2 separate regions of the Homo sapiens genome follow, and region 2 is linked to region 1. Evidence: fine-mapped expression QTL. Tissue or cell type: whole blood. Region 1 holds a variant in brackets; the other region holds the start of a gene. All regions are shown on one strand. Distances are from middle to middle.

Region 1 (8,103 bases):
TTTGGTCTGCTGCTGAGTCTCTGTTTTCCATGCCGCTGTCCCCTTGTCCCATGACCACAATCACTCTAGCTCCTCCCCGTGGAGCAGCAGGGGCTTAAGAAATTCAAACAAAACATGTATCCACATAAATAATACTGTCATAAGAAAAAGGAAGTTGAAAAAAATGGAAAACCCACTTCAATAGATACGCTTTTGACTCCTTTGAACTCTGCACAGTGTGAATGGAGCCCTTATGCTTGGGCTGAAAACTTTTCCTCTACTTCTGAGCACATGTGTGACTTAACATTCTCCTTGCTGAGTTGAAGAATTCTCAGTATGTATCACCCAAAGCCAAAAATAAGTTATGATTGAAATTTGGGCACATAAAGTGATTTTGATACTCATTTTTTCCTAAAATGAAAACTTAGATGAATATTAGGTAGGGGTTTGAACAATGTGGAAATCTTTTAACTGTTCTTTGAGTCAGGTCATGTAAAGTATCTTTGTTTGCCTTCCCCAGGATGGGGTGGGGGCTCTTAGGCCCTTACATCTTCGGGTGGTGTAACCAGTCTGGATAATAGGCATAGAGGACTGCAGATCAGGAGATGGAAAAGTACTGGAAGTGAGACAGCTGCCTGAGTTGGATTAGATAAGGGAAACCGTGTAGAAAGCAGTCTGAATCCAGCACCCTAGGAAGGTGTGGGTTTATATGATACACTCCAGAATGCAAACTTGAAAGAAATTGTGTGTGGGATACCTTGAGCTTCTTAAAGGGGAATATTTGATTTGACTTATCACTCGAATGAATGTGTCACTTTTTATCACCATGGGAATTTATTACTTTGTGAAAACATACATTAGTTATGAGAAAGAGTAGGCCTGCTGGGTAAAGCGTTGTGCGACTTTAACATAATGTTACATTTCCTTTCTTGCAGGAACCAGTGATTATCAGATTGATCCATCTTTTTTTGTTTTTTCAGAGATGGAGTCTCGCTCTGTTGCCCAGGCTGGAGTGCAGTGGTGCGATCTCAGCTCACTGCAACCTCCGCCTTCCGGGTTCAAGTGATTCTCCCACCTCAGCCTCCCAAGTAGCTGGGATTACAGGTGCCCAACACCATGCCCGGCTAATTTTTTTTTTTTTTTTTTCTGAGACAGAGTCTCATTCTGTCGCCCAGGCTGGAGTGTAGTGGTACGCTCTCAGCTCACTGCAACCTCCGTCTCCCAGGCTCAAGCAATTCTCCTGCCTCAGCCCTCCCGAGTAGCCGGGATTACAGGCATGTGCCACCACAACGGGCTAATTTTTGTATTTTTAGTAGAGACGAGATTTCACCATTTTGGCCAGGCTGGTCTCGAACTCCTGACCTATCTGCCTGCCTTGGTTTCCCAAAGTGCTGGGATTACAAGTGTGAGCCACCGTGCCCGGCCTGTATTTTTAGTAGAGATGAAGTTTCACCGTGTTGGCCAGGCTGGTCTTGAACTCCTGACCTCAGATGATCCACCTGCCTCGGCCTCTCAAAGTGCTGGGATTACAGGTGTGAGCCACCGTGCCCAGCTTAGATTGATCCATTTTAACACCAATTGGTAGTGTCTTCAACCACAAACCAATATGTGGGTCAGAAATAATTATGTGAGGAATCATTCTTACATGAAGAAACAGTCATTCTGAATGATCTTTTGTAATATGTAGGACATATTGGAAGCAAAATTCCCAATGTTGAATTTCGAGAGTTTGGGAAGGTGAACATGGCTGCGGTACATGTGTAATACACCACTAGCTGCTTTAAAAACACACCCCAGCACAGAACTTTATTGAGACGTGTCTGTCAGAAATTTTCTGTACATGTTTGTGTACATTAACAGTTTTTTTTATTGTACTCAGTACTGCCCTCAATATATAGGATGAGTCTACTTCTTAAATGTGGATTCCTTTTTAGAAGGAGATGTGAGATCGATAAATAAGATATACTGGGCTGGGCACGGTGGCTCACACCTGTAATCTCAGCACTTTGGGAGGCTGAGGTGGGCAGATCACCTGAGGTCAGGAGTTTGAGACCAGCCTGGTCAACATAGTGAAAAAAAATACAAAAATTAGCTGGACGTGGTGGCGTGTGCCTGTAATCCCAGCTACTCAGGAGGCTGAGGCGGGAGAATCGCCTGTACCTGGGAGGTGGAGGTTGCATGCAGTGAGCTGAGATTGCACCACTGCACTCCAGCCTGGGTGACAGAGTGAGACTCCGTCTCAAAAAAAAAAAAAGGGTCAGAGGGGATACATTGTTAATAAGTGGAAGCTGTTGTGATTTTCCAGTAAGATTGATAGGAAGTGCCCTTACAGCTAAGCAATATCATTTCTTCTTTTTTCTTTTTTTAATTTTAATTAAATTGTTATTATTATTATTGAGACAGAGTCTCGCTGTCACCCAGGCTGGAGTACACTGGCGCGATCTTGGCTCACTGAAACCTCTGCCTCCCAGGTTCAAGCGATTCTCGTGCCTCAGCCTCCTGAGTAGCTGGGACTATAGGCACACACCATCAAGCGCAGCTAATTTTTGTAATTTTCGTAAAGATGGAGTTTCATCATGTTGGCCAGGCTGGTCTCGAACTCCTGACCTCAAGTGATCCGCCCGCCTCAGCCTCCCAAAGTGCTGAGATTACAGGCGTGAGCCACTGCACCTGGCCTTATTATTATTTTTTTGAAACAGGGTCTTACTCTGTCACCCAGGCTGGAGTGCAGTGGCGCGATCATAGTTCACTGCAGCCTTGACCTCCTGGGCTCAGGTGATCCTCCCACCTCAGCCTCCCAAGTAGCTGGGACTACAGGTGCGCACCACTACACCTGACTAATTTTTATATTTGTAGGGACAGGGTTTCGCCGGATTTCTTAAGATTTATGTTGAATTTAGTGTGCCTAAAGAGGAATGTTTTTTGCTAAGTCATTTAAGTTATTGAACTTTCCTTTTATAGCAATTTGATAAAGTTATATTTTTACTGATGCTTACATTTTGATTTTCATTCACTTTCTCCCCGCAAAATGCCCATTGGAGGAAATGTTGCCTAACTCTGTGGGTTTAGTTGAAGTATCAGTCTCCAGGAACTCGGCTGTGTTGTAGCTACTTCAAGATTTTTAAGTGTTTTCCCCAAAGCAAATGATAGTGCTTGTATCTGGGACGGTTTCTGCCACGGTGAAGGTTGCTGGCTGGAACATGCTCATAAGACATCACCCTTAGCTCTGGCCAGCCACGTGGAAATTGTGCCATTACACCTCTCCCTTGTGCCAGCTGTATACATGCTTTGGAAGCTGAATTTTCCTTTCGGCTCATGTTGCTTGGCTCTGGGCAGGCTGTACTGGATCTTTCAGATAATAATGTCTGTAGGCCAGTGTCCTGACCTATTTCACCAATGTCCCACGAGTTTATGAACTGGCTCTGGAGCAGAGCCTTTGGGAAACTTGGTGCTGGCCATTTTTGCCACCTGTTGGGTTGACATGCTAGTAATCCCAATCATTTGGAGTTTTAGCTAGAAAGGTATAACAAAAGCTATCCTATGGCATGTGATTGGGACTAGTAAGTAATCAATGAATCAAAATTTATTTAAAGCAAGGAGTCTAATGGCTATTACATTTTCAGCTAAACTACTTCAATTTCATGCCAGAAAAGTAGTAATATTCTAGATTAAGCAACAGAGGTGATTTATCCCTAGTGAAATAGTGGACTGATCTGTTAGTAAAGTGAAGTTTTTCTATCTCTAAGCTTTAGAAGATTGGTGGGAGTTTCTTAAATAATTCATTTTTTAGTTTAAAAAGATATCTAAAAGCTGGCTTTAATTCTTGTACATCTTCCTTTCAGCCTCTGCATTCATTTAAATTTGCTGCTTAGAGGTTCAGGTAAACTGTGTTGTCACCATGACATGTGGTGGATGTCTTTCTGA[G/A]TGGCCCCTCACAATCTAGCTAATTATACATGGATTCTTTGGTTTGTTCACTACATGATAAATCAGTATGTGTCGTGCAGACGAATGAGAATTGTGTTCTTATTAGATCCTAGTGCAAAATGTCTTTCAGAATGATGTTTCCTCATCTTTACCATATAAGGCCGTTATTAGTATGGTTTCCTTTAATCTCCATGAACTGGAGCCCTCAGCAGTTTGTAAGTGCCCAGCTTTGTATTTTTAATAACGTATGCTGATTTGGTGAAATATGTTGTTGTGCTTTTGTTTTGATTTCATTATGAGTAAGAAGATACTTAGAGGTGTAAGCCCTTGAAAGCAGGATAGCTGATACTTGACTGTGTGTTTGTGAACATCCAGCATGCCAAATAATCAGTGTACCTTTAAAATGCCATCTACCCCCATACTGTCTTCACATTTTTGTTCTTTTATCACTGTCAGATATTTAGTCAATTGCTTTTCTCTTGTGCTACAGTAGAATACTACTTTCTCTGTTTTATTTAAGGATTTATGATGACATCACAACCAGAGGAAGCAGCTGCTTGTAGAATATCATTTTTTATTAACTGTGTTTCTGATGGCCAATTGCCAATAATTTTTAACATTACTTGTGTGCCTTTTTTTTACAACCCATGGCATAGTGGAAATTTTCTTTCCCTATCCAAATCTAGTATGGTTGGTCAGTGATATTTTAGATCTTTGCTTCTTGACTTTCTCTGTGCCTCAGTTTCTTTATTTGGAAAATAGGGTGATAAGATTCCCACATCTTAAAGGTTGTCATGAGGACAAAGTTATCAAGGTCTTCAGACAGTTCCTAGCTTGTAATTTAAGTACTTAAAAAGTGTTAGCCATTGTTATTATTTGTTTTGATAGAAAGGACAGAAATAGCTGGCAGTTGCTCTTTCAGTGACATTCAGGTTCCAGAGAAAATGTTGAGCTCTAGTACTTTCAGGCTGTGGATTTATTGGGGCTGAGCTGGGAATGGCAGTAATGCTTATTATTATTCTCAGATATCTTGACTGAAGAATACTGGTGAATAGCTATTAACTTTTAGCCAGGGTTATTTAATTTTAACTTCAAAAAAGAAGTCATTTAGTAAGAAGCTTCTTAGTATGTAATTAAGAACAACTAGTGCTAGTACTTCCAGATTCCCCTCAAAATTGCTTTGTGTTTGAATAAAAGCGCTTCTTAGCCCAGATTGGAAAAAATCATTTGGTGTTCTTGGAAGTTCAGAGCTCAGTACTATAGTTGGCCATCAAGGATGCCAAATGTGGTTTCCTGGGCAGAGCCTAGGAATGCAAAGACCCTGATGTAAAACAAAACAATTCAGGTAGAAAAGCTTTTTTCCTTGGGAGTAAAAAAAAATTTTAATGCAAATTTAATAATAATGCATTGGTGTATTTCTTAACTTTATTATATTTTAAATTCTTTTTTTCAAAATAAGATGTATCAAAATAATAGGACACACATGTACTCACAAGATTAAACAGATGTTAATATTTTGCCATATTTGTTTCATATCTCCCCTTTTTGAAAAAAGTAATAAAGCATAACAGATACAGGTAGAATACCATTCTTATTTATTTTCTCCTTCCCCAGAGGTAATCTTTTCTTCAAATATGTATCATATTTTTATTACATATATGTTTATCTGTAACATGTACTTTTATTTCGCGTGCCTTAAACTTTTATGTAAATATGTATTCCCATACTGAAGGACAGTGAAATTGCTTCTGCTTTTGCCACTATTTCCAACAATGCGGCAATAAATATTCCTCTTGTACAAAATATGGGAGCATCTCTCTCACCCAGACCACCTAGAAGTGGCATTGCTGGGCTGGACTTCCTCACCTCTACCTGTTACCAAATTGCTCTTGAAAGGAATTGTAACAAGGTGTTCTGTAAGCAGTTTATGAGTTCCTCTTTCCTGACATCCTTGTCAGCACTTATATTTATACTTTTACATTTTCACCAGTTTTGATGAGTATAAAATGTGACCATGTTGTTTTAATTTGCAGTTCTCTAATTATCAGTGAGATTGAAGTATCTTTTCACACATCTATTGCGTCTTCAGATTTTCTTCGCTGTGAGTTCTCTGCTTGTGTAATTTGCCCATCGTTCTGTTTGGTTGTTGATTTTGTTAGGTATGTATGTTGCATACCTCTTCTTGCACTTTGTAACTTGTCTGTTCATTTACATTTTTAAAGAACAACTCACACTGCTGAATTTGGTTTGCTTTTGTTGCTGTTTGTGAGGAGCTTTGCATCAGTATTTATAAGTCATATAGGCTTCAATTTTTCTCCCTTATACTGTCCTTTGTATCAAGGTGTTACATTCCTTATATGATGAATTCAGTGGCACTTTTCTTTTTTCTGTTCTCTGGAAAGCTTTGTTTGAAATGATCTCTTCCTTGAATATTTGGTGACACTCACCTGTAAAACCATCTGGGCCTAGTGTTTTTTGGTATTTGCTGATTGATTGATTGATTGGGAGGTGGTGATGGGTAGAGTTATACTACTGATCTTTTATGGTTATGGATCTAATTTACATTTATTTATTCTTGAAAATCTTTTGATGTTACTTTTACTTCTGTGAGATTGTGTATTTCATCTAGATTATTCAATTTTATATATATTGTCAAATGTTATTCCTAGTGTTTTCATACTCTGTAAATTTCTACTTTATTTGTAAGTTATGTCCCTTTTAAAATTATTGGTATTCATTTGTGCCTTATCTCTTTTCCTGATCTATCCAGTTTAGTTGATTTTGTTATTTATTTTTTTTCCACTGACTTCTTTTTTTCCTCTTTTTTTTTTTTTTTGAGACAGAGTCTTGCACTGTTGCCCGGACTGGAGTGCAATGGTGCGATCTCAGCTCACTGCAACCTCTGCCTCTCAGGTTCAAGCACTTCTCCTGCCTCAGCCTCCTGAGTAGCTGGAATTACAGGCACCCACCACCATGCCTGGCTAAGTTTTTGTATTTTTAGCAGAGACGGGGTTTCACTATGTTGGCCAGGCTGGTCCCGAACTCCTAACCTCATGATCTGCCTGCCTTGGCCTCCCAAAATGCTGGGATTACAGGCATGAGCCACTGTACCTGGCATCTTTTCTAATAATTTTACATTCTTTGGATGTACTCTGTTCATTTTCTAACTTCTCAAGGTAGCAACTCAATGCATTAATTTTCAGTCTTTTCTACTATATGCATTTAAGACTGTCCATTTTTCACTAAGATCTGTTTTAGTTGTATGTTGCACATTTGGATATGTTGTGTATTGCTCAGTTTTAACTTTCATTCTGTTATCCATTATGATTTTTAAAAAACAATTATTTAGTAAATTAAAATATTTTCAAATGTACTGGAGATTTTTGGTTTATTTTTCTATTAATTTTTAATTGTATTGCATTATACTCAGAAGATGCTCTACCTGCTATTGACTCCTTGGTATTTTTTGAGATTTGCTTTGTGGTCTCCTAATTGATAATTTAAAACAAATTAATGTTTAATGTATGTTTGAAAAAAGTGTATTTTTAAATGTTAGGTACAAGGTTATATATATTCATTAGATCAAAGTTGTTAATTTTTATAAAATCTTCTGTATTCATATTAATTTTGTCTGTTTAATTTCTTAAATCTTTGTTGACATCTCTTACGATTATGACTTTGTCATTTTCTTCAAGTTCTGTCAACGTTTGCCTTAATTATTTTGAAATTATATGGTTAGATGAATTACAGTTTATAGTGGCAATATAACTTTCCAGTGAATTGTTTCTTTAGATGTCAGATAGTGACATTAATCGCTAATAGTGCATTTCACCTTAAAGTCTGTTTGTTCTGGTATTAACTACCAGGTATACTTTTTAATATGCCGCCCTCCTTTATTTGCCTTTTGGTGCCATTATTTTTTTAAAATATGTGTAGCTGGATATAATCTAATCTGAGAGGCCTTGTCTTATCTAGTGAGCTTAATCTTGCATTTACTACAAATCATGATTTATAGTTGGTTTTATTTCCACCATCTTTGTGCTTTCTAGTTTTCATGCTTTTTTTTCTTAAAAAATTTGTCTCTGCTTTTCATGAGTTGCATTCATACTTTCTTTGGTCCTTTTTTTCTTTTTATTTTCTCTTTCTATTGGATTGAGCCAGTTTTTAAATTCTAGCTATTGTAGTACACCTCCACCCCCA
Region 2 (8,083 bases), 45 kb before region 1:
GACCACATTTGGGATAGGCATGGAGTGAAAGTGAGGTGGCATTGCTTCTGGCATTGGGTGCTTCCTGTGCAAGAATCACCTCCTCAAATGCAGGGCTCAAACCAGGAACTGAAAGAGGCAGTCAGAAGATGAAGGCCTTGGGATCTTTCGTAGCATATTCCATGGCTGCTTTTTGGCGGTATCATCTGGCGGGGGGAATTCTTCTAATTTCATCATTATCATTTCATCACTTCTAACTTCATCATTTATCTATGATCTCATGGAACCCCAAGATTTTTTTATTTTTATTTATTTCTATTTTTTTTTTCAGAGTCTCACTCTCGCCCAGGCTGGAGTGCAGTGGCGCTATCTAGGCTTACTGCAACCTCCACCTCCAAACTCGAGTTCAAGCAATTCTTCTGCCTCAGCCTCCCAAGTAGCTGGGATTACAGACGCGTGCCACCATGCCTGGCTAATTTTTGTATTTTTAGTAGAGACGGGGTTTCATCATATTGCCCAGGCTGGTCTCGAACTCCTGACCTCAAACAATCCGCCTGCCTCAGCCTCCCAAGTGCTGGGATTACAGGTGTGAGCCACCACTCCTGGCCGGAACCCTGTGATTTTTAAACATCAACATGTTTTAAAACAACTATTTTGTGCTGGGCACTGTGTTGGGTGCTTTGCCACGTCCTAATTCATTGAATCTAAACTCCTGAATATTCAAAACCACTTCCTGAAGCATTTACATGATTCCCAGTGATATATAGGCAGAAGAATAGGGCTCAGCTCAGAGGGGAAGTGACTTGCTGAACGTCACACAATGAGTAATAGGTGGAGCCTGAATTTAAACCTAAACCGGCCAGAATCCAAAGTCCACGGTTTTTCTGTTCTGTCATGCTGCCACAGAGGCAGTTTAGTGTAATGACTAACTGGCTAAGGGTGCAGGCTCTGCATTTAGATGGATGTGGGTTCTACGTGGTTCAAGCCATGTGACTTGGACAAGGAATTTAACTTCTCTGAGTCTTCAGTTTCCTCACCTTTATAGGTGGGGATTAGGAGTCCCTTCTGGGCTGGGTGTGGTGGCTCATGCTTGTAATTTCAACACCTTTGGGAGGCCAGGAATTTGAGACTAGCCTGGGCAACAAAACAAGACCCCATCTGTACAAAAAGTAAAAATATTAGTGAGCAAAGTGGTGTGCACCTGCAGTTTTAGCTGCTTGGAAGGCTGAGGTGGAAGGATTGCTTGAGCCTGGTAGTTCGAGGCTGCAGTGAGCCAGATGGAGCCACTGCTCTCCAGCCTGGGCAAAAGAGTGAGACCCCGTCTCAAAAAGAAAAAAAAAAAAGAATTATTTCTGTGGCCATAGGATTGTTGAGCAATTTCAGAAGATTCTGCATGTAAAGCACTCAGATAGTGCCTAGCATGTCTAAGTGATGGATAAATGTTAGCAATAATCTGTTTCCAAAGAATAAGCTAGCTTACTCCGTGGTTTCCAGTTGGAACTCGGCCGGACGCGGTGGCTCACGCCTGTAATCCCAGCACTTTGGGAGGCCGAGGCGGGTGGATTACAAGGTCAGGAGATCGAGACCATCCTGGCTAACATGGTGAAACCCCGTCTCTACTAAAAATACAAAAAATAAGCCGGGCGTGGTGGCGGGTGCCTGTAGTCCCAGCTACTCGGGAGGCTGAGGCAGGAGAATGGCGTGAACCTGGGAGGCGGAGCTTGCAGTGAGCTGAGATCGCGCCACTGTACTCCAGCCTGGGCGACAGAGCAAGACTCCGTCTCAAAAAAAAAGGAACTCAAAGCACTTTACCAATCTTCATTTTCCCCAAAGCACTCAGAACTCACTGCTATCAATGCCCCTGTTTAATTTATTAACTAGTGGATTTTAAAAAAACAACTTTTATTGTTCAAAACTATTGAATTGTGGGCACAGTGGCTCATACCTGTAATCCCAACACTTTGGGAGGCCGAGGTGGGAGGATCTCTTGAGCTCAGGAGTTTGAGGCCAGCCTGGGCAACATAGCAGGACTTCATCTCTACAGAAAAATGTTAAGAATTTAGCTGGGCATGGTGGCGCGTGCCTGTAGTCTCAGCTACGTGGGAGGCTGAGGTGGGAGGATTACTTGAGCCCGGGAGGTCCATGCTGCAGTGAGCCGTGGACTGCCCCACTGCACTCCAGCCTGAGCGACAGAGCAAGACTGTGTCTCAAACAAACAAAAACAAGTGAATTGTTTTTGAGCCTCACCATATGGCAGGCACTGCAGTAGGCGTTTCATCACGTTTATCTCATTTAAATAAAGTGAGTGGCAAATCTTACTGCAGGAAGGGTGCTGAATTCCTCCTATTAGGAGTGGCTGCTTGAAGGCAAAATAAAACCCATCCTTTCATTTTGTTGAGTCCCAGCAGTAGCAGCAACAGGTACTGTCGAGCGTTTATCACAAGCCAGGAACTCTTCTAAGTATATTACTATTATCCTGGTGCAAAAGTAATCGCGGTTTTTGCCATTCCTTTTAATGGCAAAAAGTAATGCCACGATCATGGCTGCTAATATGATCTCATGGAACCCTGTGAGGGAGGGGCTGTTATCCCCATTTTACAGATAAAGAAACTGACCCTTAGAGAGGATAAATAATTTGCTGTGATAGCTGTCTTAGTTCAGGTCAAGCTTGATTTAAATAACACACGTTTCTGAGGCTGACGCTTAAAATAAAAAATCCCCCTGTGAATGGCAAAGATGCCTTGCTTTGGGAAGTAAATAGCCCTACCCCACAGTCGGTTCGGTTCCCCAGGCTCTGTTTCCTCAAATCTCGGTATTTCAGAGCTTGGTGTTTCAGAAAGGGACTTTAGCTATTAACAGGACAACTTCTTCATGCTGAAGATTAGGGGACTCAGGCCCAAAGAGGTAAGAGAACTGTCCCAGGTCACACAGTCTGACGGCCGCAGAGCTGAGGCTCAAATTCCCGTGCTCCGACTTTCAGGCCTGGGCCGCCGAGTTATTAAGGGACTCTGGCCAGGGAAAGGAAGGGAGGAACCCTGAAGTTTCCATTCCCTCACCTGCGAAATGGGGTCAATCACGGGCCCTCTTTGGGGTTACGTGGGTGTGGCCCAGCCCAGGGGCGGCCACTCTGCACTAGGAATGTGACAATGGACGGTTCAGGGAGGGCTGGAACGTCGGCAGTCCTCAAGGGAGGTGGTGGTAGGGTGTGACGGAGCCAGGGCGGAGCCTCGGGAGCCAGAGGCGTGGATTCGCGAATTCGGGGCGGGGCTTGGGGTTTAAACGTTGAGATGGGGTAGTGGGCGGGGCTTGAGATGCTAGGAATAGGGTTGCGGTCCTTGGGCGGGGCTTCTGGAAGACGGGGCGGGGCTTTGTGAGGCCGCTGGGCGAGTTCTGAAGCAGTGGGAGGGGAGCCGGGCTTAGGGAAGCAGGAGGCTGGTTTAAGGACTCGGATAGGCAGTGCGCGGGGCTCAGAGGAGCTAATGTTCCTGTATTGAGGGGCTCTGGGGGAATCTTTGAGGAGCCAGGGGACGTGGCCTTGCAGAGCCTAGCGGGTCAGTGGGCGGGGCTCTAAGAACCCCGCTCCGGGGTCTAAGGAGCAGTGGGCGTTGCTCGGAGGCGCCTGTGGGCGTGGCCCTCTACCACTCAGATGACTGGAGAGCGGGGCGTGCGCTTGGGCACCGCCTGCATCCCTCGGTGCGACCAGAGGGGGCGTAGCGAGGCGTGGAACGTGGGGTGGGAAGCGGGCTTCCCCTCCGGAAGTGGGCGTGGCGCACAGCGGCCCGGCAGCCCTGGTTGGGTCCCGCGCGGCGCGGGGGCGGGGCCTACGCGCGGTGGCGGGGGCGGTGGCGGCTGCCCGCGCCCCTCCCCCGCACGGCGCTCAGTGCCAGGCTGGAGGCGGCAGCGGTTGGAGGCTTCGCCCGGCTTTGCAGCGGGGACTTCGGCGGCGGCGCCTCAGGCACCTCGGCCCGGGTGAGCGGCTCGCGCCCGGCGGGGGCAGCCTGAGAGCGAGTCGGGCGGGCGGACCTGTCCTCTGAGCATGTGCCTGCGCCGCCTGACAGGAGCCGGCGGGGCGAGGGGCAGGGCTAGGTGGAGGGGACAGTGCTGGGTGGGCGCGCGGGGCGCGGGTTCACGGGCTGGGTTGCAAGGGGTTAGGGCCGGGGGCTGCTGTCGGGGGCTCGGGGAAAGGGAGTTGGGGACCGAACCAGGTGGCGTGGGGAGCGTGAAGCAGGGTCCCTGTGGGGAGGAGGCTTTCGAGGTCCGGAACGCTCCTGGCCGGGTGCGGAGCCGCGGGCCGAGGTGGGACGAGGCTGCCCAGGGAAGGCTTTTAGGGGTCAGGGATCGCCTGCTTGGGCGAGGTGCTGGGAGGGAAGGGCTGCTTCGGGCGAGGCGTAGAGCCCGGGGGCTCCAGGCCTGGGGACTGGGTTTGGGCCGCCCCAGGGAACGAGTGGGTGGGGGCGGGTAGGGGCCGGGCTCACGTGGGGCCGGGGCGAGCTGGGCCCTGCGTCGGGAGGGGCGAGGGCGGCCGCCTGGCCTGCGGGTTTCCTGGCTTTGGGTGCGAGACCAGCTCTGGGCCCTGCAGATCTCGGTTGGGGGTCAGGCGGGGCGGGGCAGAGCTGGAGCTGGAGTAATGTGGGTGGGGGCGGCTTGGGAAGAGGCTGAGCCCGGCCAAGGGAGCAGAGGGCTGGGACTGGCTGGGGGTTGGGAGGGGAGGAACGAAGCAGGAAGGCTGTCGGATCGGGGGCCCAGGGTGTCCGAGTGAACTGGGTGATTCAGAGGTGTGTTTCCCTAATAGCGGGGCAGCTGGCGAGGGACGCAGTAAAAAGGAGCGAGGTGCAGGTGGGGCCCCGCTGCGCCGAAATGACTGAGGATGAGGTCAGACGTGGAGGGTGGGAATGCAGAAACCGAGCTCTCCCGCCTGTCCCCACCGGCGCACGCTCCCCAGCTCTCCGTCTCTCAAATGATTTGAATGTGTTGGGGGAAGTGGCAGGCTGCGGTGAGAGCTGAGAAGAAAGGGGCTTCCTCTTGGAGGGAGGCGCTGGCCCTGGCATCCTTTTTTGGGAGTGTTCAAAGGATTTTGAACGCTGGAAAAGGAATCGTAGGCTTTACTGCATCACGATTTAGAAACACATCCTATATTTGGCCGTAATGTAGGCTGCCCTTGTTTTGTGGTGTCTAAAGTGCTTGCTCTACATGTTGCAAACGTGGGATTCAGAGTGCGAAGCAAATTGCAAGTTGTTCATTTCCCCCGGCATGGTAAGATACAAAGGCTTTTCCCTCCTATAAGACATTTGAAAAGAATTGAATGTAGTGCGCGTTTAATAAACTGGTCCTGGGTGGCGAATATATTTACTTTTGGAAATAGTTACCACAAAATATTAGGCCCTCTTACCGCAGCCTTTCTGCCTGGGATTACATTCTAAAACAGTACTTGTAGGGCTCTTAGTCACTCTATATAATAATGCATCTCATTGTCCTTATCTGGCAGAACGTTCTCCTGACACCAGGGCCTGCTGGAATAGACAGAAACATGATTAAGTATAAGCAGTTGCTTTGTACCGTCTGTTCAGTTGTGAAGGCAAATAGATACCTGTTTAATATTAATTCACTTTCTGCATTCCCTGTAAAACTGAAGAAATGTGCAAAATCTATTTTGGACTTGGTTCTATACATTTCAGATGATTTAAGGAAACTAGTATTTTTGGTTTGGAGGTATGTTTCACAGTCATAATGTTTGGCTATGAAGCATAATAGTAAACATTGGATCTGAGAAATCGCATAAATAAGTAGGGAAAAAAGTGAAATAAAACTGAGAATTGTGTTGTACCTTAGGTCTTGAAGTGCAGTGTTTCGTGGTGGAGGTTAGTCGTGTGTACTGAGGATTGGACAAAGATTTGGTATAAACGTCAGGAGCACACATTTTTGACAAATATAGAACCTATCTTGTCCATATTTATTTTGATTACTTGTGGAAGGTACATTAAAGCCTGATGAATTTTAATAGATACATACCGATGAAACATAACTGCACACAATATTGACTTTTTCATGATCCTTTGTTACTTTGCCTGCAGATTGTGCTAATCAGCATTTATACTTATTTATATATAGTTTAGGATTAGATTCGGTGTCAGTGAATAGCATTTTTTTAAACACCGTTGGATTTTTTGATAAAAGTTTTATGTTTAACTTATCTGTCACTTCTGGGATCCACTCCAACCATGAGGAAGAGAGTCACTCTAACGACTATGAGATGGAATGTTCAAAAGGATGAATATCAATTCTTAGTTATATAAGTGGGTATGTCGACGAGTCTCTTCTTTATGATGGCAAAATTTTAATTTCTCATATTTTGATTTGTCACAAACTGGTACTTTAGAAACATATTATTAATTGGTCTGTTTTACCTTTGACCTCTTTTCCAGGGGTGGGGCAATAATAAATTTGAGAGCTACTTGCATTTTCAAGGTACAAATCCATGTGATAAAACCTCTTAAGCTTGTTTTCCATTTATGACTTCTCTGTGTTACTGTCTCCTTGAATTATGAAAACTCTTTTCTGACACTTGTATGTCTTTTTAAACTTAAGATACCTTTTCTGTATTAAAACAGAATTCTTCATGAATATTTCAGTATGACCTAGTACCTAGAATGTTAAGTAATAGAATCTCTCTGGGTTTTCTTTGCCCTAGTTCAGATCCTTTAAAGTGAGTGAACAAGATTCTGTACTCCTTTCTGAGTACTTTGTATTTCTAGAGTGCAGAATGGAACTTTTTTTGTTTTATAACAGCTTCATTGAGACATACTGTACAGTTCACCCGTTTAAAGTGTACAGTTCTGTGGTTTTTGGTATATTCACAGAGTTGTGCAGCTGTCACCACAGTCAATTTTAGAACATTTTCATCCCCCCCAAAAAGAAACCCCATACCCCTTAGAAGTCCTCCCGTTTCATGTAAATGGAATCATACACTATGTGGTCTTTTGTGTCTTGCCCTTATTTAGCATATTTTCAAGGTTTATATGTGTGGTAGTATTGTATAGTACTTCATTTTTTTTTTTTAATGGTCAAATAATATTCCATTGTTTGGATATGCCGTATTTTGTTTATCCATTCATCAGTTGATGAACATTTGGGTGTTTTTCCTTTTTGGCTATTATGAATAATGCTGTGAACATACGTTTTCATTTCTCCTGAGTATTTACCTAGGAATGTAATCGATGGGTTGTATGGTAACTCTATATTTAACTATTGGAGGAATGGCCAGACTTCTCCAAAGCAGCTGCACCATTTTACGGTATTCACCAAGAGTATATGAAGGTTCTAAATTCTCCACATTCTTGCCAACACTTGTTACTCTCTGACTTTTTGATTCTAGTCATCTGTGTTTCCCTAATGGCTAATGATGTTGAGCATCTTTTCATGTGGTTGGTGAACATTTGTATGTGTAATCTTTGGAGAAATGTCCATTCAAATGCTCTGCCCGTTTTTTAATGGGTTGTCTTTTTATTGGTGTTATAAAAGTTGTTCATGTATTCTAGATTCAAGTGCCTTATCAGCTGTATGATTTGCAAAAATTTTCTTGGATTCTGACATGTCCTTTCATTTTCTTGATGGTGCCCCTTTTTAGGAACAAAGATTTTAAATTTTGATGATTTCCAATTTATGAATAGTGGGGTCTTACTAGTTAGAAATTAGACCTTAAACCACACCCTCCTCAATATTTTGGTTATATAAGTTGAAACCCAAATGTGAGAGGACTGGGGAAAGGTTTGAATTAATATATTTTAAGGTATGCTATAGATGAAAAAGGATTCATCAGGGAACATGCCATTCACCTGTTCAAATCCTCTGGTGACCTCACCTTTACCCACAAAATAAAGTTCAGACTCCTTAATGAGGTGTGGAGTAAGGTGGGCTCTGATTTCAGCCTGCTTTATTTCTCACTATTCCCCTTCCAATGTCTTCATCTCTAGTGCCACTCCCTGAAACATCCCAGCTTTCAAATCTTGTGATGAATTTATTACTTCATCGCCTTTCTACTTCTAGAATCCCACTTGTCCTTTGGGACATGGGTCATGAGGTTTTTCCTCCATGAAAACTTCCTCAT

The links. PIP is the estimated chance that this variant, and not a neighbour inherited with it, causes the effect.
Region 2: CORO1C starts here. The variant in region 1 is fine-mapped to the expression of CORO1C in whole blood (INTERVAL, PIP 0.99).

The regions. Positions count from the first base shown.
Region 1 is chr12:108,682,055-108,690,157 of GRCh38, reverse strand. All of the region lies in intron 2 of CORO1C (coronin 1C), which reads left to right. Among named protein-coding and RNA genes, the nearest start is that of CORO1C, 45 kb to the left of the region's middle. The variant G/A (reference allele first, on the strand shown) is at 3,904.
Region 2 is chr12:108,727,294-108,735,376 of GRCh38, reverse strand. It overlaps CORO1C (coronin 1C), which reads left to right and starts at 3,859. Exons shown (of 11, transcript NM_014325.4): 1 at 3,859-3,948. LOC105369969 (a long non-coding RNA gene) reads right to left here and starts at 1,968. Exons shown (of 3, transcript XR_945328.4): 1 at 1,925-1,968. RefSeq lists enhancers at 275-776, 3,185-3,988 and silencers at 3,601-4,110, 4,301-4,580.